6 separate regions of the Homo sapiens genome follow, and all the other regions are reported to be linked to region 5. The links are microRNA targets in miRTarBase. Many come from high-throughput screens and were not tested one by one. Region 5 holds a microRNA gene; each other region holds the end of a gene's coding sequence.
What was found. Region 5 holds the annotated microRNA hsa-miR-2116-3p (CCUCCCAUGCCAAGAACUCCC, at 2,597-2,617, opposite strand). A microRNA usually pairs through its seed, bases 2 to 8, with sites in the 3' UTR of a target mRNA and lowers its output. Matches are read on the target gene's strand: a 7mer-m8 pairs with bases 2 to 8, a 7mer-A1 pairs with bases 2 to 7 and ends in A, and an 8mer does both.

Region 1: miRTarBase lists EPHB2 as a target of hsa-miR-2116-3p. Seed matches in the 3' UTR shown: 7mer-A1 at 783-789.
Region 2: the mRNA of SPAG16 is a reported target of hsa-miR-2116-3p. The part of its 3' UTR that is shown has no 7-base or 8-base seed match.
Region 3: miRTarBase lists ALDOC as a target of hsa-miR-2116-3p. Seed matches in the 3' UTR shown: 7mer-m8 at 1,004-1,010.
Region 4: miRTarBase lists TRAF3IP2 as a target of hsa-miR-2116-3p. Seed matches in the 3' UTR shown: 7mer-A1 at 2,637-2,643 and 7mer-m8 at 1,027-1,033.
Region 6: the mRNA of PSMC1 is a reported target of hsa-miR-2116-3p. Seed matches in the 3' UTR shown: 7mer-A1 at 748-754.

Annotation. Positions count from the first base shown.
Region 1 is chr1:22,913,098-22,917,097 of GRCh38, forward strand. It overlaps EPHB2 (EPH receptor B2), which reads left to right. Exons shown (of 16, transcript NM_017449.5): 16 at 365-4,000. The coding sequence ends at 473. Among named protein-coding and RNA genes, the nearest start is that of MIR4253, 52 kb to the left of the region's middle.
Region 2 is chr2:214,409,769-214,413,872 of GRCh38, reverse strand. SPAG16 (sperm associated antigen 16) reads right to left here. Exons shown (of 16, transcript NM_024532.5): 16 at 3,372-3,733. The coding sequence ends at 3,558. VWC2L (von Willebrand factor C domain containing 2 like) reads right to left here and starts at 2,819. Exons shown (of 4, transcript NM_001080500.4): 1 at 2,087-2,819.
Region 3 is chr17:28,570,254-28,574,357 of GRCh38, reverse strand. ALDOC (aldolase, fructose-bisphosphate C) reads left to right here. Exons shown (of 9, transcript NM_005165.3): 7 at 117-291; 8 at 424-623; 9 at 737-1,238. The coding sequence ends at 832. It overlaps PIGS (phosphatidylinositol glycan anchor biosynthesis class S), which reads left to right and starts at 2,834. Exons shown (of 12, transcript NM_033198.4): 1 at 2,834-2,895; 2 at 3,170-3,309; 3 at 3,395-3,506. The coding sequence starts at 2,862. RefSeq lists enhancers at 2,454-2,503, 3,194-3,313 and a silencer at 3,294-3,490.
Region 4 is chr6:111,555,834-111,559,937 of GRCh38, forward strand. It overlaps TRAF3IP2 (TRAF3 interacting protein 2), which reads right to left. Exons shown (of 9, transcript NM_147686.4): 9 at 1-3,718. The coding sequence ends at 3,572. It also overlaps TRAF3IP2-AS1. Among named protein-coding and RNA genes, the nearest start is that of TRAF3IP2, 48 kb to the right of the region's middle. RefSeq lists an enhancer at 3,531-4,030.
Region 5 is chr15:59,168,596-59,172,699 of GRCh38, forward strand. MIR2116 (microRNA 2116) reads right to left here and starts at 2,667; the gene lies at 2,588-2,667. MYO1E (myosin IE) reads right to left here. Exons shown (of 28, transcript NM_004998.4): 22 at 3,302-3,447.
Region 6 is chr14:90,271,690-90,275,793 of GRCh38, forward strand. PSMC1 (proteasome 26S subunit, ATPase 1) reads left to right here. Exons shown (of 11, transcript NM_002802.3): 11 at 584-3,740. The coding sequence ends at 718. It overlaps NRDE2 (NRDE-2, necessary for RNA interference, domain containing), which reads right to left. Exons shown (of 14, transcript NM_017970.4): 14 at 1-4,104. Among named protein-coding and RNA genes, the nearest start is that of PSMC1, 17 kb to the left of the region's middle.

The DNA of each region.
Region 1 (4,000 bases), not on the chromosome of region 5:
CAGGGGAATTGCTTGAACCAAGGAGGTAGAGGTTGCAGTGAGCTGAGATCACGCCACTGCACACCAGCCTGGGTGACAGAGCGAGACTCTGTCTCGAAAAAGAAAGAAAATGTAAGCTGGCTTCCCCCTCCCAATAGCAGGGGAGAGAAGGCCCCCTAGGGACCCTGATTCCGACTCAAGTGCTCTTCCACCTCACACCATAGTCGCTCCCTCCAGCTGTGGCTGCCTGCCCACTCCCCACTCCCCACTCCCCAGTACTCCTTGCTTTGCCATCTTCCTCCCGGGGAAGCCCAGGCAGCTCTCTACCAGGCACAGGACCCCTTCACCCGCATATTTCCCTAACACACGTGCTTCTCTCCCAAAGGGACATTCTCCGGGTTGGGGTCACTTTGGCTGGCCACCAGAAAAAAATCCTGAACAGTATCCAGGTGATGCGGGCGCAGATGAACCAGATTCAGTCTGTGGAGGTTTGACATTCACCTGCCTCGGCTCACCTCTTCCTCCAAGCCCCGCCCCCTCTGCCCCACGTGCCGGCCCTCCTGGTGCTCTATCCACTGCAGGGCCAGCCACTCGCCAGGAGGCCACGGGCCACGGGAAGAACCAAGCGGTGCCAGCCACGAGACGTCACCAAGAAAACATGCAACTCAAACGACGGAAAAAAAAAGGGAATGGGAAAAAAGAAAACAGATCCTGGGAGGGGGCGGGAAATACAAGGAATATTTTTTAAAGAGGATTCTCATAAGGAAAGCAATGACTGTTCTTGCGGGGGATAAAAAAGGGCTTGGGAGATTCATGCGATGTGTCCAATCGGAGACAAAAGCAGTTTCTCTCCAACTCCCTCTGGGAAGGTGACCTGGCCAGAGCCAAGAAACACTTTCAGAAAAACAAATGTGAAGGGGAGAGACAGGGGCCGCCCTTGGCTCCTGTCCCTGCTGCTCCTCTAGGCCTCACTCAACAACCAAGCGCCTGGAGGACGGGACAGATGGACAGACAGCCACCCTGAGAACCCCTCTGGGAAAATCTATTCCTGCCACCACTGGGCAAACAGAAGAATTTTTCTGTCTTTGGAGAGTATTTTAGAAACTCCAATGAAAGACACTGTTTCTCCTGTTGGCTCACAGGGCTGAAAGGGGCTTTTGTCCTCCTGGGTCAGGGAGAACGCGGGGACCCCAGAAAGGTCAGCCTTCCTGAGGATGGGCAACCCCCAGGTCTGCAGCTCCAGGTACATATCACGCGCACAGCCTGGCAGCCTGGCCCTCCTGGTGCCCACTCCCGCCAGCCCCTGCCTCGAGGACTGATACTGCAGTGACTGCCGTCAGCTCCGACTGCCGCTGAGAAGGGTTGATCCTGCATCTGGGTTTGTTTACAGCAATTCCTGGACTCGGGGGTATTTTGGTCACAGGGTGGTTTTGGTTTAGGGGGTTTGTTTGTTGGGTTGTTTTTTGTTTTTTGGTTTTTTTTAATGACAATGAAGTGACACTTTGACATTTCCTACCTTTTGAGGACTTGATCCTTCTCCAGGAAGAAGGTGCTTTCTGCTTACTGACTTAGGCAATACACCAAGGGCGAGATTTTATATGCACATTTCTGGATTTTTTTATACGGTTTTCATTGACACTCTTCCCTCCTCCCACCTGCCACCAGGCCTCACCAAAGCCCACTGCCATGGGGCCATCTGGGCCATTCAGAGACTGGAGTGAGATTTGGGTGTGGAGGGGGAGGCGCCAAGGTGGAGGAGCTTCCCACTCCAGGACTGTTGATGAAAGGGACAGATTGAGGAGGAAGTGGGCTCTGAGGCTGCAGGGCTGGAAGTCCTTGCCCACTTCCCACTCTCCTGCCCCAATCTATCTAGTACTTCCCAGGCAAATAGGCCCCTTTGAGGCTCCTGAGTGCCCTCAGATGGTCAAAACCCAGTTTTCCCTCTGGGAGCCTAAACCAGGCTGCATCGGAGGCCAGGACCCGGATCATTCACTGTGATACCCTGCCCTCCAGAGGGTGCGCTCAGAGACACGGGCAAGCATGCCTCTTCCCTTCCCTGGAGAGAAAGTGTGTGATTTCTCTCCCACCTCCTTCCCCCCACCAGACCTTTGCTGGGCCTAAAGGTCTTGGCCATGGGGACGCCCTCAGTCTAGGGATCTGGCCACAGACTCCCTCCTGTGAACCAACACAGACACCCAAGCAGAGCAATCAGTTAGTGAATTGAATGGAAATAAACGCTTTAGTTATAATATGACCCCTGTTCTCTGTAAGTTCCAAGGGAGACCTTGGTACCCTTGGGATGCACGTGACCCAGGTGCTAAGGGTTGCTCTTCTAAGCAGCCCTTCCTCCCTCAGGCTTCCAGAAAGCCCAGGGCAGAGAAAACACATGGAGAACGACAGCTCCACGTGGCCTTTCTGGCCCTGGCTTGTCAAAAGCACAGGCAACAAAGGAAGTGAGTTGGAAGTGGCTCAGAACTCAGCCTTCGATGCCCTGGGAATCAGGGTGAGCCCCTGCAGGTACATAAGTAGCAGAGAATTGACGAGAGTGCACTCGGAAGAGGGTCTGAGTGTCAGGTGAGCTGTCATAGTGGGAACGTGAGGGTCTTAGAGTGCTCATGTACCCCCAGGCACAGCCAACTCTGGTTTTCTCTGTGCAAATGAGCTCTTGCTCACATTAAAATCAGAATTGTCCACGTGGCAGGAGGAGGCAGGGAGATGGATGTGCCATGGATATCGGGTCTGGCTGAGGAAGGGGAGCCAAGGAGACTACCTCTCGGGACCTTTCCCAGATCCGAGGAGATGGCCAGTGAGAAAGATTCGGGCCACAGGCAGCCAGCTAGAAGCGCCACGGTCAGAGTGAACATCCAGCACAGCACAGCCCATCGTCTGTCACTCACCTGTTCCGGGAGCCTGAGCTGCAAAGGGAAGGAAGGGATTAGAGAGAAGTGTGGGCCCCCCATGGGGACAGCAGGGCAAGCCACAGGGAAAGCATTGGCAGGTTTCCCACAAACTGGCCGGCAGTGGCCCACTGGCCTTCACTTTGTGCCCCAAAGGTGCCCTGCGCGGGTGGCAGCTGTCTCGGCACACAAGGTCACCTTCTGGTGGGAGCTGCCCTGATGCTCTTTAGATTAGTTCTGTCTCCCCAGCCCACCCCCCAACTGTTCTGGGGCCCCACATGGGGCTGGCAGTCGGTGCTTCCCGTCAGATGGCTTCCTGTCCTAAGCCGCTGAGCTGGTGACCACTAGCCAGCATGTCTGCCCCTCCACCCTCCAGGGCCGAGGTCCTCAGTGGCCATGGCCCCCTGCAAACCTGCTTCCCAGAGCACAGGTGCTACCAGACCTCTGTGTCTCCACTTCAGGGTAACAAACAGATGTCACTGTGACTGTCCCAGGGGTACAGGCGCTGCTCACATCTCTTCCACCCCCACCCACCCACCCCACCCGCTACCGGGGCAGTCGCCCCGCCCCAACCTCTTGCTTGCTGCTCAGCGGGGAGTGGCAGGCCATGTTGCCAAGCGCCTTCCACTTACACCACCCGCTCACCCAGGCACACAGCTCTGAGCCACCCGCTGCCTGGTTACTAATCCTTTCCTGGCTCAACCTCCCCAAGTGCCAGCCCCCGCCTGCCCAGCAGTGTTAGGGGAGTTTCCGGCTGCTCTGCACACAGTTGGTACTGCAGGAAAGAAAGCTGCCTTGTAAACACAGGCCAGGGCACCGTGGAAATGGGGACCAGCTGCTCTGGGAGGGTGCAGCTAGCAGAGCTGTGCAGCGCCAGGCTGGGTAGGAGAGAGCCATGCTACCCACCCGCACCCCTACTGCTACGAAGCCCCCAGAATGGGTCATTGTTGGTGCTCAGCAGTCCTCTCCCTCGGGGATGATATCCAAAATATCAACTGCGAAGACTCGGGCAGACCAATCAGAATAGATGATGGCCTGAGTGCTGGACCAGAGGCCTCAGAGCAGGGACCCGGGTGGCGGGGCAGTAGGAGACACTTAAGGGACTCAGGGCTATGGCTGTTTAC
Region 2 (4,104 bases), not on the chromosome of region 5:
TCTGAATTTCATAGGTCTGGCTTTATCTAAATTGCAAAGAAATGGTTTTACTGAGCCCCAAAATGTGATCCAAGGAGTAACTTACAAATAGCTCAAGAATATTTGAACTCACATTTTCTATTATTCTTTAAACTGGACTAGTCAGTGATGGAACATATGTTATAATTATCTGTGTCAACTCAAGAGATTAGTGAGAAAAAAATCTAATTCTAAAGGAAAGGGAATAAACCAACAGTTGAATATAAATTATATTTAGGAAGGAGCTACTATAAAGGATTTCCTACTTATTTATGCCCATAATTAAAGAACAACAATGGCGTCAACATCAGTTACCTGTTTAAGTGAATGTGAGTCTGGATTTTTGAAATAAAGTTGATAACAAAAACAACATAACTATTCCATAGTGATTAAGAGAAAGAAAATTTGAAATAATAAATAATACAAGAGAATTCCATGTGCTTAAAAGAGTTTGTTAAAAACAAATTTATTTGTATTATTGTCCACATTATTTTACATAGGAAGGAAGCTCCTAGTGGGCAGGAAAGATCTATCTATAAATTTACTTCACAGTAACTTGAATCTAGTATATATGTAATATTATTTAAATTAAAATTTGCAATATAATATAAATACAATTTATGAGATCTTGAAAACATAACTCTTGAAATGTCAAAAATATTTACATGTACAAAATCTGCACAAAGATGCCAGCATAAAATTCTTTATGGAAGTTGCTTAAAACTGTAATTAAGTGTTAACCATTCATAGAAAATATGCCTTATTAATTTTGTGACACTGACTCTTGTAAACTCCACTTAGTATTGGTGCTTGATGTGAAGTGTTGGGAGTGGGCTCTTATTTAAATATTTAGAATAACTAAATCACACAGAGGCTCTGGGGAGACTGTGACTTTAGGGAGTAATAAATAAGAAAAAGTATTGTCAAATAGCTCATTTTTTTATTTAAATGCTATTGGCTTCATGCCAATAACACTAAGATGGTATACAGGACATTTTCAGGTCAGTTATAAATGTTATACATTGGTTTATTTTCAGATTATATTAAGAGCAATGATAAACCATCTCTTTTCAGTCTAACATATACAGACGATAACAAGATAAAGATGACATTAGGAAACTTCATAAACTATTATATTTGCATTTTAAGGTAGATATACAAGTTCTAGTAATAGTAAAATGGAAGGTAGTATGCCCTCTTTCTGGAGAAAGCTGATATCAGAATTACTCTGATATCCTCTGATATTAGAATTCCCTTTGGGTAGGTAATAAAGCCGATGATTTCTTATAAAATATGTCAAAAATAATAAGTCATGACAGAACAAGAAAATGCAAACCTATAATTCTACTTGAGAATCTGGAAGCTCCCTTTGACAAAGCATTTTTTTCTCTCAAATTACTACAGAGATAACAAACATAACAGAAGCTTCTGAAAAAGCATAAATATAATTTACTAATTAAAGCAAGCATTTATACATCACATATTTAGAAAGTTTATCTTGGAGGAAAAGAAAGCTACTGTGCTTCCTTATAATATTCCAGCAATATCTGTCAATGCATGCAAGATAAGCCATATAAAATACACATATGATTCTGCTTCAAAGGGACATAGGCAGAAAATGATCTCTTTGTAAGCCACAGGTAGGCATTAATGTGTTAGGTTATGGTAAATGTAAACTTAGAGGTAAAAATAGGAATGTAATATCTACTTTATATAAACATTAAATATGTTTTTATTATATGAAATATATCTTAAAATCTGCATGGTAAAAAACAAGATTTTATTTTCAATATAACAAAGTTCTTAGGCTATTTTTTTTTTAAAAAAAAGCCTTCATAATTGAGCTGCCCTAGTACAATTTAAGATACTATTTAAGAGAAGAAACATGGGATAAATCAAATGTAATGTTTATCTGAAGATTTTTAAAAAGAAAGCAAACACTGCTAAACTGAGGATCACTTCCCAGCTTAATTTTCCCCCCCTCCCCATATTGCTACAGATGATTTAAAATGACTGCATCTATTTCTTTGAGAAAACAAACATAATTCATGTCATAAGATACACTTACCTAATCACTCTGGAGGTTAATGGTGGTGGTAGGGGTCACAGCCCAAAATGAACTAAAAGGTCAGGTATGTTTTAAGAAAGCAGTTCCTCTTTAATTACCCAAAGAATACATTTTTTAGGCATGAATTAAAGGCAATCCATTCTCTCTACCTCCCATTTCAAAACACAGTAAAGAAGCAGTCTCCCGCCCTTCCAGAAAGAAACACAGCAGACACATATAAGAAATTTGCTTTGGACCTGTCTTCAGAATTCAAAGCAAGAAGCAAAGCTGGTCCTGTAGAAATCCAGACCCCAGTAGCAGAATCATGTTGAACTTATTTTTAGCATTTTCTTAGATCCTTCTATGAAATTTCCCGGCTGATTACGCCTCCTCCACACATGAGTTCACTTACACAGTGTTTGCTACGGCAGTAGAGGTGATTTGGCTAGGCTCTGAGGATCACAAACAGCAACAGCATGCTGTAGCTTAAAGCCCACTCCGCTGGCAATACCATCACCATCGTCCACAGTGTGTTGCTTGAATCCCCTCTTACACACCGGAAAATACTAACTGTGGATGTGAAGGAAAGGAGCAACTTTAGCTGGGTTTCTGCATCAGTAAGAGCAGTTTGCAGATTGCTGATTTGGAGCTCATTCTGCCGGCAGCCGGGAATTCCTCAGCACCACGGACAGCGCCAACAACTGGCTTCTGAGCCCAGCTCTGTCGAAATCCCAGAGCTGCTTTAGACGAGGCTAGAGTGCTCTCCAAGCAGTCGCACTTTATACAGCGGATGCGCGCATTAGGAGGGGTAAAGACATTCTACGTGCGAGATATTTATTTGCATTGAAATTGCAATTAATTTTTTTTGTATAAAATTGTATACCTAACGCGTTCTTGGATGGGCTGCAGAGATGAAAGTTCCAGAAGAGGCTTGCATTTAGATTTAAGCCATCTGCAGTCCCCAATTATTATTAATAGATAAAGCATAATCATTGTCAAACAATCTGTGAAAACGTATGCTTGTCGATTCTATTTGACCCTTTGGTGGCAGAAAGACTTCCCTGGTGCTGCATGATTAAACTTCAGGTCTTCCTGCAGCTTGGATCTGATTTTTTTTTTTTTTTTTTAAAGTAGCCAGGTTTTCCTGCAGTTTGTTCTCTAACATTAAAAATCAATCTCCTGTAATTCATCTAGTCTGTCATTAGGCGTCATTGTAAAGCTGTTTCTTTCAAAACCCCTAGCAAAGATGCCGTGTCTCTAAATTCTTATCAAAATGAGAGAGAAAAAAGACCCTGACACAAATGGGTGAGCATAAAGTTATTTTTTTATTAGTAACAGTATGAGCACTAAAATATATGTCCAAAGCATGTTTTAAAGCAGACTGTAAATGTTACCTGCTGGCACATTTAACCAGTTCTTTGCTGGTTTGGGACTACAGGAGGCATTTTCAAGCCTTAAAGGGAATGCCCTCTGCAGCGGGATGTGCTGACGGTCAAGACCACGTTCGAACTGTGCCGTCAGAGCCTCCAGAAAAGAGAATCTCCCCGTCGTGAGAAAACACAACCGTGTGTGCCTCGTTTTCGTGGCCCATCAATTTGTGAATCTCCCCAGATTTAAGATCTAGCAAATGGATAACACCATTGCCACTTGCCTGAGCTAAAACTCGACCTGAGGGAGACAGAGAGGAGAGAGAGAGAGAATGAATCAAAGTTTTATTTCAAGTGTTCACAGTTTATAAGCAATGAAGCATTCTATTTTTTTCAATTATCATTCTGTGTTAGGGGTCAGTTATTAAATATGCAGTAGCTCCTGTAGGTATAAGAAATAAGTTGAGTCAAAATTAAGACACATCAATAATTAGGTTATAAAATTTTCTAATTGGGACATAGAGCCTAATGGTCTACCTCCTTTATATGCAGATTTCATCAAACATCCTACTATTCTTTTATATTTGTGATTAATAAAGCATTTCGAGGAGATGAGATTGAAAGCAACTATGCAAGGCAACTTTCTTTTTCAAATAAATTATATGTTAGAAA
Region 3 (4,104 bases), not on the chromosome of region 5:
TCTGAGCCTGTACTGAGCCCTCACAGTCTGTGCCCATCTACCCCTACATAGGGAGCATCGAGCAGTAACCAGTGGGGGCCCAGACCCTTAGTAAACCTCCTCTAATCCCCACCCAGGTCTTGGCTGCTGTGTACAAGGCCCTGAGTGACCATCATGTATACCTGGAGGGGACCCTGCTCAAGCCCAACATGGTGACCCCGGGCCATGCCTGTCCCATCAAGTATACCCCAGAGGAGATTGCCATGGCAACTGTCACTGCCCTGCGTCGCACTGTGCCCCCAGCTGTCCCAGGTACTACCCAGCTCCCTAACCTGCTCCTATCCCTAAGGCCCATCTTCAGGTCCTTCTTGTGGCCTTCAGGGGTTCCCTATCCTGGAAAAATTGGGAGTGACCAGTCAGTTTGTCTTCTCTCCTCCACACTAGGAGTGACCTTCCTGTCTGGGGGTCAGAGCGAAGAAGAGGCATCATTCAACCTCAATGCCATCAACCGCTGCCCCCTTCCCCGACCCTGGGCGCTTACCTTCTCCTATGGGCGTGCCCTGCAAGCCTCTGCACTCAATGCCTGGCGAGGGCAACGGGACAATGCTGGGGCTGCCACTGAGGAGTTCATCAAGCGGGCTGAGGTTGGGAGCTACAGGTGGTGGTGGGTGGGGGCAGCACCCAGAGGCTATAGCCTGGGCAGGGCTTGGCACCTGTGGGCTGGCTCAGCCTGCTTACTCCACGCTCCCTTTTGCAGGTGAATGGGCTTGCAGCCCAGGGCAAGTATGAAGGCAGTGGAGAAGATGGTGGAGCAGCAGCACAGTCACTCTACATTGCCAACCATGCCTACTGAGTATCCACTCCATACCACAGCCCTTGGCCCAGCCATCTGCACCCACTTTTGCTTGTAGTCATGGCCAGGGCCAAATAGCTATGCAGAGCAGAGATGCCTTCACCTGGCACCAACTTGTCTTCCTTTCTCTCTTCCCTTCCCCTCTCTCATTGCTGCACCTGGGACCATAGGATGGGAGGATAGGGAGCCCCTCATGACTGAGGGCAGAAGAAATTGCTAGAAGTCAGAACAGGATGGCTGGGTCTCCCCCTACCTCTTCCAGCTCCCACAATTTTCCCATGATGAGGTAGCTTCTCCCTGGGCTCTCCTTCTTGCCTGCCCTGTCTCCTGGGATCAGAGGGTAGTACAGAAGCCCTGACTCATGCCTTGAGTACATACCATACAGCAAATAAATGGTAGCAAAACATTCTACTTTGCCTGTCTGTTTTACACATCAAATTCCCACCTCCCAGTTTCTGATCTCTGCTAATTCTATCTCTGGGCCCTCTGACTCTGGAGGTGGAGAGGGTGGGATTTGAGTCTTACTGGGCTTCAAGTTATGGAGGAAGGGCACATGCAGTCACCATCCCCAGCTCAGGCTCTTGCTCTCTTGATGTCCAAGTCTGGAGTGGGGCAATGAGGAAGACTGCAAGTCTTCTAGGGACTGCCACATCAGTGGCACTGGGCTGCAGCTACAGAAGTATGGAGTGAGGCCAAACTGGCAACTCCTGAAGGCAGATTTGTGCAAGGCTCAAAGCAGGGAGGCAGCAAGACAGGCTGGGATAAGAGTGGGTGGGAGTCTCTCCCATCTCGCAGTGTTAAGCCCAGCTGGGACCTGGTACCTTCCACTAGGGTGAGCCACACCAGTAAGGGCAAGCGAGCACCTGGACTCCCGCCCAAAGAGGAAAACCAAGGCTCTGCGGGCTGCCAGGGCTGAGCAGGGCATCTAGGAGGTTGCCAAGGGCTATGGCCCATTTTCATTTGGGGTAGAAGTGGGCACAAAGGGAGCCAATTGGAGGGTCTGGGTAAGGACAGCTCTGGTGAGGCCTGATGCTGAACTTTAACCACTGGGCTGGGTTGTGAGGTAGGCTGAGAACCTGGGTCTAAGCAGATAAAAAGAAGAGATAACAAGCTGCGTGTGTTCTGTGTCAACTGGGGAGGCTACAAATGCTCCACCCTGTGTGGCCTGACTTTATAATAACAAAAATAGCTTGCACATAGCACCAACCCTGTTCTAATCACTTTATATGTACTGACACATTTCATACAACTCTATAAAGTAGGTACTATTACTATCATCCCTATTTTAATAGAGAAAACAGGCACAGATAGGCACAGAACGATCTTCTCACGATCACTCACCTAATAAGTGATGAAGCCAGGATTTGAACCGCAGTGATCAGCATCTAGAGTCTGGGCTCATGACTTTTCAAGATTTTTAAGTGAAGTATTCTGAGTTTTCCAAGTTGGAAATGAATTAAAACGTATTTTAAAATAGCGAGAGAGCCAATTGTGCTAAAACATACTAGCTTGCTACCTCCGTGTTTGAGGCTTTGAGGAGAGGGCACCCTAAGAGGAGTTCTACGATAAGGATAATAAGACCGTGACAGTTGACGTTGAGGGCTTTCCGTGTGCCAGGCTCCTTACAAGAACGGCCTCATTTATGTAAATATCTCCATTTTCAGATGAGCCTCGGAGCTGCCTGTAGTTGCCCAGCTAGTATTTAAGGACTGCAGAGGTTGCGCTCTTGATTGCGGGGCTAGAAGTGTGTTCTACAGGGAAGCGGGGAACTTCGTTCCAGCAGCGCCGAAACCCGCACGGCCCCTAGGCTGTCCCTCCGCGCCCGGGTGACTTCCTTTCAGATCCCCAGCGAAGCTCCCAGCGGAGCCCTCCCACCCCTCGCCCGCTTGCTCCCGTCTGCGGGTCTGGAGTAGCGCTCGCGATTGGCCCCGATCACCGCCGCGGTCCTGCCCCCTCGTTGCAGAGATTCCGATTGGGTGAGGCTCACGAAGCTCTGCCCCCACGGTGGCCGGAGCAGCCGGAAGCTAGCATGGCGGCCGCCGGGGCTGCGGCTACACACCTAGGTGCGGTGGGCTTCGGGTGGGGGGCCTGCAGCTAGCTGATGGCAAGGGAGGAATAGCAGGGGTGGGGATTGTGGTGTGCGAGAGGTCCCGCGGACGGGGGGCTCGGGGGTCTCTTCAGACGAGATTCCCTTCAGGCTTGGGCCGGGTCCCTTCGCACGGAGATCCCAATGAACGCGGGCCCCTGGAGGCCGGTGGTTGGGGCTTCTCCGCGTCGGGGATGGGGCCGGTACCCTAGCCCGTTTCCAGCGCCTCAGTCGGTTCCCCATGCCCTCAGAGGTGGCCCGGGGCAAGCGCGCCGCCCTCTTCTTCGCTGCGGTGGCCATCGTGCTGGGGCTACCGCTCTGGTGGAAGACCACGGAGACCTACCGGGCCTCGTTGCCTTACTCCCAGATCAGTGGCCTGAATGCCCTTCAGGTGAGACTGCTGTGCGGGAGGGTCGGGGGACAGCCCCCCCGGCAAGGTGGAGACTCAGTGACGGCCCTGATGCTCCTTCCTGTAGCTCCGCCTCATGGTGCCTGTCACTGTCGTGTTTACGCGGGAGTCAGTGCCCCTGGACGACCAGGAGAAGCTGCCCTTCACCGTTGTGCATGAAAGAGAGATTCCTCTGAAATGTGAGTTACTGGGGATCAGGGCTGCTTTTCGCCTCTGAGCTCAGTTCAGAGCTGAGTTGGGTGGGAGGAGCGGGGGTGTACCATAAACGCAGTTAAAAACTTACTGTTGAAAGACCTCTGAATGAACAGTGTGTTTGGTCAGAAAAAAACTACTTTCAAATTCACAGTCACTAAATAGCAATTTTACTCGTAAGACAGGCTACCTAATCGGAAGCAGTTGATGCCCATCAGGGTATAGGGGAAGAGGTGGGATATAGTGGAAAGAACACAGAGTTTGAAATTAAATTGGATTTGCATATAGGCCCTATTTAGTTTGTTTGTTTATTTATTTATTATATTTTGAGACGGAGCTTCGCTCTGTCGCCCAGGCTGGAGTGCAGTGGCGCCATCTTGGCTCACTGCAACCTCTGCCTCCTGGGTTCAAGCGATTCTTCTGCACCAGCCACCCGAGTAGCTGGGATTACAGGCGCGCGACACTACGCCCAGCTAATTTTTGTATTTTTAGTAGAGACGGGGTTATGCCATGTTGGCCATGCTGCTCTCGAACTCCTGACTTCAGGTGATCCGCATGCCTCAGCCTCCCAAAGTGTTGGGATTA
Region 4 (4,104 bases), not on the chromosome of region 5:
TGGCTCATGCCTGTAATCCCAGCAATTTGGGAGGCCGAGGCGGATGGATCACGAGGTCAGGAGATCAAGACCATCCTGGCTAACACGGTGAAACCCCGTCTCTACTAAAAATACAAAAAATTAGCCGGGCATGGTGGCAGGTGCCTGTAGTCACAGCTACTCGAGAGGCTGAGGCAGGAGAATCGCTTGAACCCGGGAGGTGGAGGTTGCAGTGAGCTGTGATTGCACCACTGCACTCTAGCCTGGGTGACAGAGCGAGACTACGTCTCAAAAAAAAAAAAAAAAAAATGCTTTGATGTTGGTGGTCATCGGATCTCATAGAAATTTCAGGGGCCAAGCTTTTGTCACTTGGCCAAGTGCGTGTGTGTGTGTATGTGTGCGTGTGTGTGTGTGTGTCTGTGTGTACTTTTTGGTTTGTTTTTTTGCTACCAGTGCTACCAGCTGTAACACTTTAATGACTCTTTGTGGAACACCAGGGACCACTGCTCATCAACCACCTGGGGTAAGAAGAGTGGAAGGAATGAGTGGTTCAGAGCTTAGGACAGGTCTCTGAAGGGAGGAAGGGTTAATAACATCACATTGCTAAGTCTTTGCAAACTAGAAACATTTCAGAGTAATTGCTGATGTCATTTTATTTACAAACGGGTGTCGAATCCTTAATGATGGTGTCACCTCAGACTAAAAAAGATAATGAAAAAAGAGAAAGAAGACTTGAAGTTTGTGTTTGGGTGTTTTCCAGGTTATCCAAATATGAAAGTCAGTTCTACCAGGTCTCAAAACTACGGAACTAATGTTACATGTCAGAAAGTCTTACAAATGAGTACTTATGTTATGCTAGTTTTTCTTCTCTTTTCCTATTTTTTAAAGAACAAAGACATTCGTCTCACCCAGTAGACATCTAAGTTATAAAGTAAATGAAACTAGTGTTCTTTGCAATGCATTAGCAATGTTTCTTATTTATAGTTGACAAGTATTTGTCCTTTCCCTGTGCTACATATAAGAGCTGGACTGGGCTGGGCGTGGTGGCTCCCATCTGTAATCCTAGCACTTTGGGAGGCCAAGGCAGGTGAATCACTTGAGCCCAGGAATTCGAGACTAGCCTGGACAACATGGCAAAACCCTGTCTCTACAAAAAATACAAAAATTAACCAAGCATGTTGGTGCACACCTATAGTCCCTGCTACTTGGGAGGCTGAAGTGTAAGGGTCACCTGAGCCCGGCAAGGTCAAAGCTGCAGTGAGCTGAGACTGTGTCACTGTACTGCAGCCTGGGAAAGAGTGAGACCCTGTCTCAAAAAAAAGAAAAAAAAAACAAAACGGTGGACTGTCTTGTAGCACAAGTGAGCCTTGTTTAAGAGGCTAGTAGATAAAGAAGGGAAGCAGTAGCTTGCAGCCCCAAAAAGTCTTCATTGTCTTAGTAGCTTGGGCCATAATTAAAGCCATCCCACCTTTATAGTTTACGTAGATTTGATACATGTATACATATTTTATATATGGATATGTGTATGTGTTCTTTTTCTGGAGACCAGGTAAACAAGATATATAGATACAGATAGATATCCAAAATTATCAACCTGAGGGTATTGTTGAAGTTTTTTTTTTTTTTTTTTTTTTTGAGACGGAGTCTCACTCTATTGCCCAGGCTGGAGTGCAGTGGCGCAATCTCGGCTCACTGCAAGCTCCGCCTCCCGGGTTGACACCATTTTCCTGCCTCAGCCTCCCCAGTAGCTGGGACTACAGGCGCCTGCCACCACGCCCGGCTATTTTTTTTGTATTTTTAGTAGAGATGGAGTTTCACCGTGTTAGCCAGGATGGTCTTGATCTCCTGACCTCATGATCCGCCTGCCTCAGCCTCCCAAAGTGCTGGGATTACAGGCGTGAGAAGATATTTTTTAAAAGAGGAAAATGTTGGCTGGGTGTGGTGGCTCACACCTGTAATCCCAGCACTTTGGGAGGCCGAGGTGGGCGGATCACAAGGTCAGGAGTTCGAGACCAGTCTGGCCAATATGAAACCCTGTCTCTACTAAAAATACAAAAATTAGCTGGGCATGGTGGCAGGCGCCTATAGGTCTAGCTACTTGGGAGGTTGAGGCAGAAGAATCACTTGAACCCAGGAGGCGCAGGTTGCAGTGAGCCAAGATTGCAGCACTGCACTCCAGCCTGGACGACAGAGCGAGACTCTGTCTCAAACAAAAAAAAAGAAGAAGAAAATGTCTCTGTTAAGAAAATGTAAATTTGTCCTCTGAGAGACATAATTATGAAAATGAAAACTCAGTCACTCCTCAAAAGAGTATTTAGAATTTAGGTCCTAGACTTCAAATCTTTTAGAGTGATTAGAGATGCTTTTGTCCATGTCATTTTATAAATGAGTCCCTGGAATCTAAGAAAAGTTAAAGGACTTGCTAAAGGTCATACAGCTAATTGGTGGTAGAACCAAAATTAGAACACAGACTACAATTCTAGCCTACATCCCCCAACACTTCATACACATATGCAAATATTTTTACCTATGTAGTCAGATCCTGAGAACCATAATCATACTATTTAGAATCATGGCTGTATGCTATATAAAGTTGTTTTGTTAAAAATGGGTGTTTTTATTTGTTTGTTTGTTTTTTGAGACGGAGTCTCGCTCTGTCTCCCAAGCTAGAGTGCAGTGACATGATCTCGGCTCACTGCAACCTCTGCCTCCCGGGTTCAAGTGATTCTCCTGCCTCAGCCTCCCGAGTAGCTGGGATTACAGGTGCACACCACCATGCCCGGCTAACTTTTTTGTAATTTTAGCAGAGATGGGGTTTCACCATGTTGGCCAGGCTGGTCTCAAACTCCTGACCTCAAATGATCTGCCTGCCTTAGCTTCCCAAAGTGCTGGGATTACAGGTGTGAGTCACTGCGCCCAGCCTAAAAATCTTTATTGCAAGAATAAAGCTTCCATGATTATGGTTAAAAAGGGTTGTTTAACTAGCTGGCTTTAATCCATTAATACAGAGTGGTCTGTTATATTTATCTAATATTATATCTAAGCAGCTTTGTTGATGTCCCTGGAAGCAACTGCCCATATCATTATAAATTATATGTATCTCCTTTGAGATAAGTAAAACATAATCTTACAAAAGAGTAAACATTTTATTATTTGTACATGAATCAGTTTGGTCTGAGGATACACAAGCATCTGGCTAACTCATAAAAGTAGCCTGAAGTGATTGATAGGAGAGTGTTTGTAGTCATTTCCATTTGCTGCCACATCCCTTACATTATCTACTTGCTAAGCACTGAGAGGCCCAGAATGGACACATCAAACTGTCAGGAGGAACATATGGGACACTGGCACCTGCAATGGTTTTTTTAAAAGCAGAGAATGCAGAGCAGTCACAGACTCCACTTCAAAGCCAGGGTGTGTGGAGGTCTCCGGGGAAGAGCTCTGCACAACAGGTTTCCTGGGGGCCAGAGGGCCTCTCGGGGAGGAACAGAAAAAAACCAGCCAGGAGTGCTACCGACCAGCCTCAGCCAGAATGCTGTCAGAACAAGGCCCCAAACATGGCCTGGCCTCAGTGATCTGGGGATGAACGGTGTCACAAGGGAACCACCTGAAGGGTGGGCAGAGGCCCCCGTGGAGGAGCCACATACTCTTCCTCTCTCAGCAGCCGCAGCAGGATGTTTTTTTTATTCTTGGGCCAGCTGTAGACATGAGTGTTCTGAAGCCAGGTGGGCACATGCTCCTATGGGAGGCAGAATGACAGGAGCAAAGGTCATTAGAGAAAAACCTGGATGCCAGATCCCAGGCTCAGTTCCCAAACATTTCTGGCTTTCCCTACATGGGCGTTTCCTACCAAACTATCCTGGGAGTTGTGCTGTTTTGCTTTTGGAAAGGTTTAGCATGTGAAATGTTCTTGGCTTCGGGTACAAGCTGTATATCTCATTATAAAAACCACATGTGCACAGCATTTTCTGTCAGTCTCCCAGACTACCTACCCTTTGCATTTCAACTTGCTTTTCACCACCCTCACATAAAAGGGGTAGGACAGAGGTCACACAGAGTGATGTGAATTCCCCTGTGACTTCAGAAGAAGTATGCCAGGGCCGTAGGCTTAAATCAATTCATTAC
Region 5 (4,104 bases):
ACCAATTCACGGATAATCACAATTATCTACAACCTCACTCTCCCTGCTTCCACTTTAAAATAACTACCAGGCTGGAGTGCAGTGGTATGATCATGACTCATTGCAGCCTTGACCTATTGGGCTCAAGCAATCCTCCCACCTCAGCTTCCTGAGTAGCTGGGACCACGGGCACGTACCACCACTCCTGGCTAATTTTCACATTTTTTGTAGAGATGGGTTCTTACTATGTTGCCCAGGTGGGTCCCAAACCTCCTGGGGTCAAGCGAGCCTCCTGCCTTGGTCTCCCAAAGTGCTGGGATTACAGGCGTGGGTCACTGCGCTCAGCCTTTATTTCATGCTCAAATGTTTCAGTACATATTATTAAAAGATAAAGTCTCTTTATATTAAAATTAACCACAAAACATTATCATACCTACAGAAATAAACAATAAATTCTTCATACCAAATATTTAGTCATGCTCACATGTTGTCTTGTAACTGTTACTGAATGGTTGGTTGGTTTGAATAGGGAGCTGTAGGCCCACTGTGCACTGACATTAATTGTAAGAGCTAGAGATGGGCTAAGATCAAGCTTATGGGATACTTTGATAAATCGTAACTAGGAGGCCATATGTTGATATCATTCCAGCCAATAGTCAACTGGTCAATCTCAGAAATTCTTAAAAACACATACAGATGTTGCAGCTTTTTTCCTGAAGTACAAGCCAACTGTTAAAATCTTTCTCTATGCCAGTACTGAAGTATTTTGAGAACACACACGCATGTTCAGTAGTCTGGTACCAGAATTAATTTCCACTCTGGGTTCGATTCTGCACACACATCACCCTCTGGTTGCTTTCCTAACTTGGTTCTGATTACTGGCCTAACTCAAGTATAAAGAAATGAGGGGACACTATTATTCATCTTGGCAAGTGTGAGGTTCAGTGACTGCAATACACAGACATCACAAGTTCAAATGACTCACACTTTCTTTTTTTTTCCTTAGAGTCAGAAAAACTTTTAGGCTAAGTACCTCATTTTACTACAGCCTTTAAAAAGGAAAGACCGCAAGAAAGGAACCTTCCAGATAATGAATACTGAACAGGAAGAAGAAAAAGAAGCTGGTGCTCCCATGACAGATTATATCCCCAGAGGCTGTAAAAGAAGACAATAAACAAACAAAAAACAATAAAAGGAAGAAATTTGAGTGTGAACAGTCCCTACAGTCCCTGCTTGACAACCCCCTCAAGGACTTATCAATAAGATAGTAAGTGTCAAAGTGCTTGATACAAGTGTAGCTCAAGGCCAGGCACGGTGGCTCACGCCTCTAATCCCAGCACTTTGGGAGGCTGAGATGAGTGGATCACTTGAAGTCGGGAGTTCAAGACGAGCCTGGCCAACGTGGTGAAACCTTGTCTCTCACTAAAAATACAAACATTAGCCAGGGGTGGTGGCTCAGGCCTGTAATCCCAGCTACTCGGGAGCCTGAGGCAGGAGAACCACTTGGACCAGGGAGGCAGAAGTTGCAGTGAGCTGAGATCACGCCACTGCACTCCAGCCTGGGTGACAGAGCGAGACTCTGTCTAAAACAAAACAAAACAAAACAAAACAAAACAACCACACAAATGTAGCTCAATTAGGATAATTTATGGTCCCAGTCATGAGCACTCCACCAGGGGTCTGAGGGACTGAAGACATACCTGGGCAATAACAGAAAGAACAAGTCACTCTCGGCACAGCGACTACACACACCCTAGAGCTGTGGTTCCCTGACTTTCACCTGCTGTGCCTGCCAAGCACGCTGTGGCCAACCTGGCTTAGTCCAGGCATGGCAGGGCCCCATGCAATGACAAACAAAGCAGGAGCTTCCTGTTGGGTTTCCACGGCAGCCTCAGGGCCCAGCTAGCCAGGAAGAGTGTGGCCAGCAGGCACTGCCCCGCTCAGGTTGGGACCCAGCCAGTGAGCTGAATGTTTAGGAAGGCCTTCAGAAAATCAGTCAGCGCCTAGAGCTTTAAAAAAAAAACAAAAAAAACAATAGCCTTGAAACCTACCTGAGGTGGGGCTGCAAAATGGACACTGCGGACTCATCTGCTTAGCAACTTTACCACATCCTGAGTTGGCACGTTTTAAATACTTCACTGCACTGCACTGCCTGGTCCTTTATCCAGGGAAATTAGGAACAGATAGAATCAGAAACCACAGAGACACAGGCAAGAATGGATGCAACTAGAAATCTGTTTTGGATTATCAGACTGGAACTAGGATTTCCAGCTTGGTACATCAGACGCCTGAGCACATAAAACCCCTGCTTTTTCCTGAGCGCACCAGTTTTGCCTTCTGTGTGGAGTAAGAGTTTGACAGGCGTCCCAATTCCATGTTCATGTGAGAGCAGAACATCTTTAATGCAAAGGCCCAAAGCTTTTCCTGATTAAAGTAGTGTTAGCCTCAGAGGCCCAGGGACACGATTCTTGGAGGAAGCTATGGGGCTCAAGGAGGCCTTTCTTCCATTCTTAGTCTTCATGGATTGCGAGGATTTCCTGTGTCAGCGGAACTTAGTCTAGGAGTTCTTACCATGGGAGGACTTCGGGAGGACTTAGCATGGGAGGACTCCTAGTCTGGGAGTTCTTGGCATGGGAGGACTTCTTAGCATGGGAAGACCTCCTATGCTAAGAACCCCTAGCCTAGGTCCCACTGACGGAGGAGATGCTGACGGCCGGCAGAGGAGCCCTTCTGCCGAGAGGAAGCCAAGGTGCTGCCGGGAGGAGCAAGGGCCCTTCCTGAGGCCTTGTGGAAGCAAACACCACTCCCCACTGCCTGAGAATTGGAGCGAAGAGAGCATCTCACGATGACTCCAGGGCTACAGAGAATGGAGACCAACTTGCACTCCCTAAGGAAGTCCCAAAGAAACTTCCCTTTCAGGACCCTCTGCTCAGGGAAATGGGTGAGGCCTCCAACCTGGGTGAGGTGGACTGGGGGACAGGGCTCTGAATCCTTGGCTCTACTGCAACAAGAGAAATTATTCTCTGAGGTGTTCCATATACCGGGTTCATTTCTAACACGTTTCGGTTACAAGAGATCTGGGTCCCCCTTGATTAGAGGAGCTGTCCGGAGGCAACCTTTTCTTGGTACCTTCTTCCTGACATATCAAGACTTGCTGAGACTAGGGAGTCTTCCCTTTGGGACAAAGGGAAATTCCATTCTCTTGATCATGATTTTGACAGCTGGGAAGCCCAGCCCGGCCTTCCTCCTGGCTGTTTGGAACAGCGGACCGTGATGCTGAGGCGAGAAGGGGCAGTCCTGCCTCTGCACCTCCACTACTCACCTGAGGGACACAGACAAGATCCGTTCTATCTCGATTTTCCGCTTCAGGACTTCTTTCACCAGGCCCTTGTCTGGGCCCTGTTTGACTTTTTCTCGTCCGATTAAGTACAAGCACTTTGGGGTAAGGAGCAGGTCTCGCTTTACACCCTGTAAGGAGAGGAGCTTTAAGAAGCTGGACAGGCCAGGCATGGTGGCTCACACCTGTAATCCCAGTACTTTCGGAGGCCGAGGCGGGTGAATCACCTGAGGTCAGGAGTTCGAGACCAGCCTGACCAACATGGTGAAACCCCGTCTCTACTGAAAATACAAAAATTAGCTGGGTGTGGTGGTGGGCGCCTGCAATCCCAGCTACTTGGGAGGCTGAGGCAGGAGAATCGCTTTAACCTGGGAGGTGGAGGTTGCAGTGAGCCGAGATTGCGCCATTGCACTCCAGCCTGGGTGACAGAGCAAGACTCCGTCTCAAAAAAAGGTGGACAGACATGGTCAATGTGATGACAACAATTCACACAGTGGACTGCTGTTACCAGGACAGGGGGAAGCTGCCTTGGACAGTCAATCTTCACTACTGTTGAGAGGCCATTCCATTCATCACATGACCGGGCCCCATGACAGTGAAAGAGGGCATTGTTCATGATTATTAGGATGACATGTAAAAAATGATGACATTTGACTCTTTTTGACTTAAAAACTGGCAAACTCATATGGAGTCACTTCACATATCAGGACAGCAGGTGTAAAGGGAAAGTCACCAACACCTGTGGTGAACTTAGCAAGGATGCACTACAGCATGTTTCTAAACAGGGG
Region 6 (4,104 bases), not on the chromosome of region 5:
ATAGCTTGTTAGAACCTGAGCCAAAACTAGAACCCACAGCCCTGACCCTTGGGTCAGTCTTAGTTACAGTAACTCCCAGTTTAAGCCACTTCACATCCTTTCAGAAAATAGGATGCTTAAAACATTTTTTTTAAAAATCAAATCTTTCCCAAATAAGCAATTTGTGTTTAGTCTAGGTGTCTCATGCTTTATTTCAGAACAGATTTTTTTTTTTTTTTTTTTGAGGTAGAGTTTCGCTCGTTGCTCAGGCTAGAGTGCAGTGGCGCGATCTCGGCTCACTGTAACCTCTGCCTCCCGGGTTCAAGCAATTCTCCTGCCTCAGCCTCCCGAGTAGCTAGGATTACAGGTGCCTGCCACCGTCCCTGGCTAACTTTTTGTATTTTTAGTAGAGATGGGGTTTCACCGTGTTGGCCAGGCTGGTCTTGAACTCCTGACCTTAGGCGATCCACCTGCCTCGGCCTCCCAGAGTGCTGGGATTACAGGTGTGAGCCACCGCGCCTGGCCTCAGAATAGGTTTTTTGGAATTCCTTGTTAGAATAAAAATGAGTATGTCACTTTCTGAACACACTCTTCTTTCTTACAGGCAATCTGTACAGAAGCTGGTCTGATGGCCTTAAGAGAACGTAGAATGAAAGTAACAAATGAAGACTTCAAAAAATCTAAAGAAAATGTTCTTTATAAGAAACAGGAAGGCACCCCTGAGGGGCTGTATCTCTAATGAACCATGGCTGTCATCAGGAAAATGGTTGGGAGATTTCTCAATCCCTGAAAGGGATGAGGTTGGGGGAGTTGCCCAGAGGAATCCCTGTTCCCACTGATTTTTATTAGCAAAACATCCTGTGTCTTTTGGAGTACGATGTGTAAGTGCCCATTGGGTGGCCTGTTGGTCACTGTGCAGCAGTCTGCTTCCCAATAAAGCGTGCTCTTTCACAAACACTTCCTGTTTCTGCAGTCTCCACACACACCTACCGCTCAACAGCAGCCTGTGGGTGGACCCAGCTACAGGGAAGCCTTTGGACAGGAACTCAGGCTGCGGTCCCAAGGAGTGTGGACCTCACTATGCGTTCGCCACATCACACCCCCAGAGCTGGCGTTCAACGGTAATTACAGTGGGAAATGGTCACTACCACAGAGCCAGGGATATTCGTTGTTTAAATAATAAAGGCTGCGTTAATGTGGCTATTGCTTCCAAAGGAAGTACAGCTTTCCTTTTTGGAAGTTTTGTGGACCATGCATGTTCTTAGCACTCTGAGGGCAGAAAATAACTACTGGTGTTCCCAAGAGACTGAGGATTCCTAGAGATATCTTGAAAGCCCTTCTGAGCCCTTGGGCTCAGAAATCTCATCCCTTTCAAGGTGTTCAGAAACATGTCAGAACTTCCCCTTCCCTTTCTCCGTCTATTTCCGTCATTTCTCTTTCTGAACAAATCAGGCCTAAAGCTATTAAGTGGGACAGATCAAGGTAAGCGTTCCCTTGACAGGTGGCCTGGTGTGGGTTGTAGGGCCCACACTGAATGAGGAGTGTGTATTAGTTTTCTGTTAATACTATAACAAGTTACCACAGGCTTTGTTTAAAAACAGCACAATTTGGCCAGGCACGGTGGCTCACGCCTGTAATCCCAGCACTTTGGGAAGCTGAGGCAGGCGGATCACAAGGTCAGAAGTTTGAGGCCAGCCTGGCCAACATGGTGAAACCCCATCTTTACTAAAAATACAAAAATTAGCTGTGCGTGGTGGCAGGTGCCTGTAGTCCCAGCTACTCAGGAGGCTGAGGCAGGACAATCGCTTGAACCCAGGAGGCGGAGGTTGCAGTGAGCCAAGATCCCGTCACTGCACTCCAGCCTGGGCGACAGAGCAAGACTCCGTCTCAAAAATAAATAAATAAATAAATAAAAACCACAATTTTATCTCAGTTCTGTAGGTCAGAAGTCCAACACGAGTGTCTCCAGGCTAAAGTCTTGCTGTTGGCAGGACCGTTCCCTCTGGCGTCTCTAAGGGAGAATCCGTTTCCTTGCTGAGGATTATTGTTGGCAGAATTTAATTTCTTGGAGTTGTGGGCCAGCTGAGGTCAGCATTTCCTTGCTGGCTGCCAGCTGAGGCCTTTGCCAGTCTGTGAAGGCCACCCTCCCTCCTGACTCGTGGCACTTCATTTTCCACCAGCAGCAGCAGGCCCAGTCCCTCTCTCCCACCGACCCTTCTTTCTGCCTGCCTTTTCTATTCTTATGGATCCTTGTGATTGCATTGGACCCATGCAGATGATCCAGGATAATTTCCCTGTTTTAAAGTTTACAATCTTCTTAATTTTTATCTGCAAAGTTCCTTTTGCCATGTAACATTCACACGTTCCAGGGCTTAGGGTGTGGCCATCTTTAGGGGCGCCACTCTGCCTACCACAGAGGACATCCACACGTGGGGGTGGCCCAGTGCAGGGTAAGGACGGGGTGCTTGTGGGGAGGGCGGGTGTCAGCCCAAGTAGGGTGTGGAGCTGTCCATGTGGAGGAACACCACAGCACGGGGACTCAGCATGGGCAGGGTGAGGCTGGCATCCGTGTGGGGTGTATGTGCAGGGCTGGGGTGGTCCGATAGGGGGAGTCAGTGTGGGCAGCCTGATGTGCAGTATGAGAGCCCAAGTGGGTGAGGAAGGCATCTGCAGGGACGGGGTGGTGGCAGGGGAGGGAGGCTGCTTATGTATGGAGGCAGTCAGGCAGGTAAACAGGACAGTGGGAGCCAGGTTTCTCTGAGGAGTTAGACACAGAAAGAAGAAAACAAGAACGACCTCTGTCCACTGGGAGCACCTGGGAACAGTGACACCCCAACTGCAGTGAGCACCCCTAGACCCAGACCTTTGCTGCTAAAAGTATTATTCTCCACTAAAAGGAGTGAGGGCTGATTCCGGGGCTAGGCAGGGAAAGGACAGGATGAACCCAAAGTCTGTTTTGCCAGAAAGCAAGGGAGTGCTCAAGGAATGATAAGGACATGTCCTAAGGACACCGAAGCCTATGTGAAGGGGCTTCCACTGGCCAAACTCGGGACAATCTGAGCATCCTAACAAACAGTTACTATTAATGGAATACAGTATAGCCCTTTAAATAGGGAACTACACACACACACACACACACACACACACACACACACACACACACACACACACCCCAATACATATGAATTGATCTGAAAGTTTGCTGAGGAAGGGGTATTTACAGATTTTGAGAGTCTGCCACAAAACACTGTTCAGTTAGAAAGGGAAAGTCACACTGGAGATGCCCAGCAGACACCGTCTTCACCAAGTGGTCAAATGCACATCATCAGTAATGGGCACTTTGAAAGTACGTGCCACCCAAGAGTGTCAGTGCTGTCACACTCCTGCCAAAGATGCTTAGCCTGAATCCAGTGCTGAGGAAACACCAGGCAAACACAAACTGAGGAACATTCTACAAATTCAGAACACTTCAAAAGTATCCACGTCTTGGAAGTCAAAAAGCTTCCAATCAGAAGGAGACCAAAGAGATGACAACCAAGTGCAGCTCCTGCTCCTGAACTGGATCCTTTTCCTAGAGGACATGACTGGGCCTGAGGACCTGCTAGGAGTACTGCGTCCATGCTGACTTCCTGTTCAGTGTCTGTATCGTGGGCGGGTAGCAGACTCTCAGCAACTGACTCACACGGTTCAGGAAACAAAATTCTTTGTAACGCACTTGCATCTTTTCCTAAGTTTGAGATTAAAAAAAACAAAAAACCCCAGCACATCAGTATTGCCTTTTCCTCATTGGTAATAGCTGAGCGTTTTCCTCTAGAGGGACAGTCTCCCTCATGTCAATTCTACAAAAGCAGCTAAAGCAAATGCCAGGGCCTAGAGTGTCAGGGTAGCGGGCTGAACTGCGCCCCACCCCAGCTGCTTCTCCAGTTTGCTTACTGACCAAAATGCTGAAATTACCGTTTCGGCAGCTGGTCACTGAGGCCTGCGGTGCCAAGTGCAGGGATGCAGGTATGAAGTGCTTGTGAAATAACAGAATTCCCACAGTAATTTCTTCCCTGGCTTCCTGCACTGGTGAGCCGGACAGGGAGAACCCCGTCTGCCTGCGGAAAACCCACTGGCTCTTTGGAG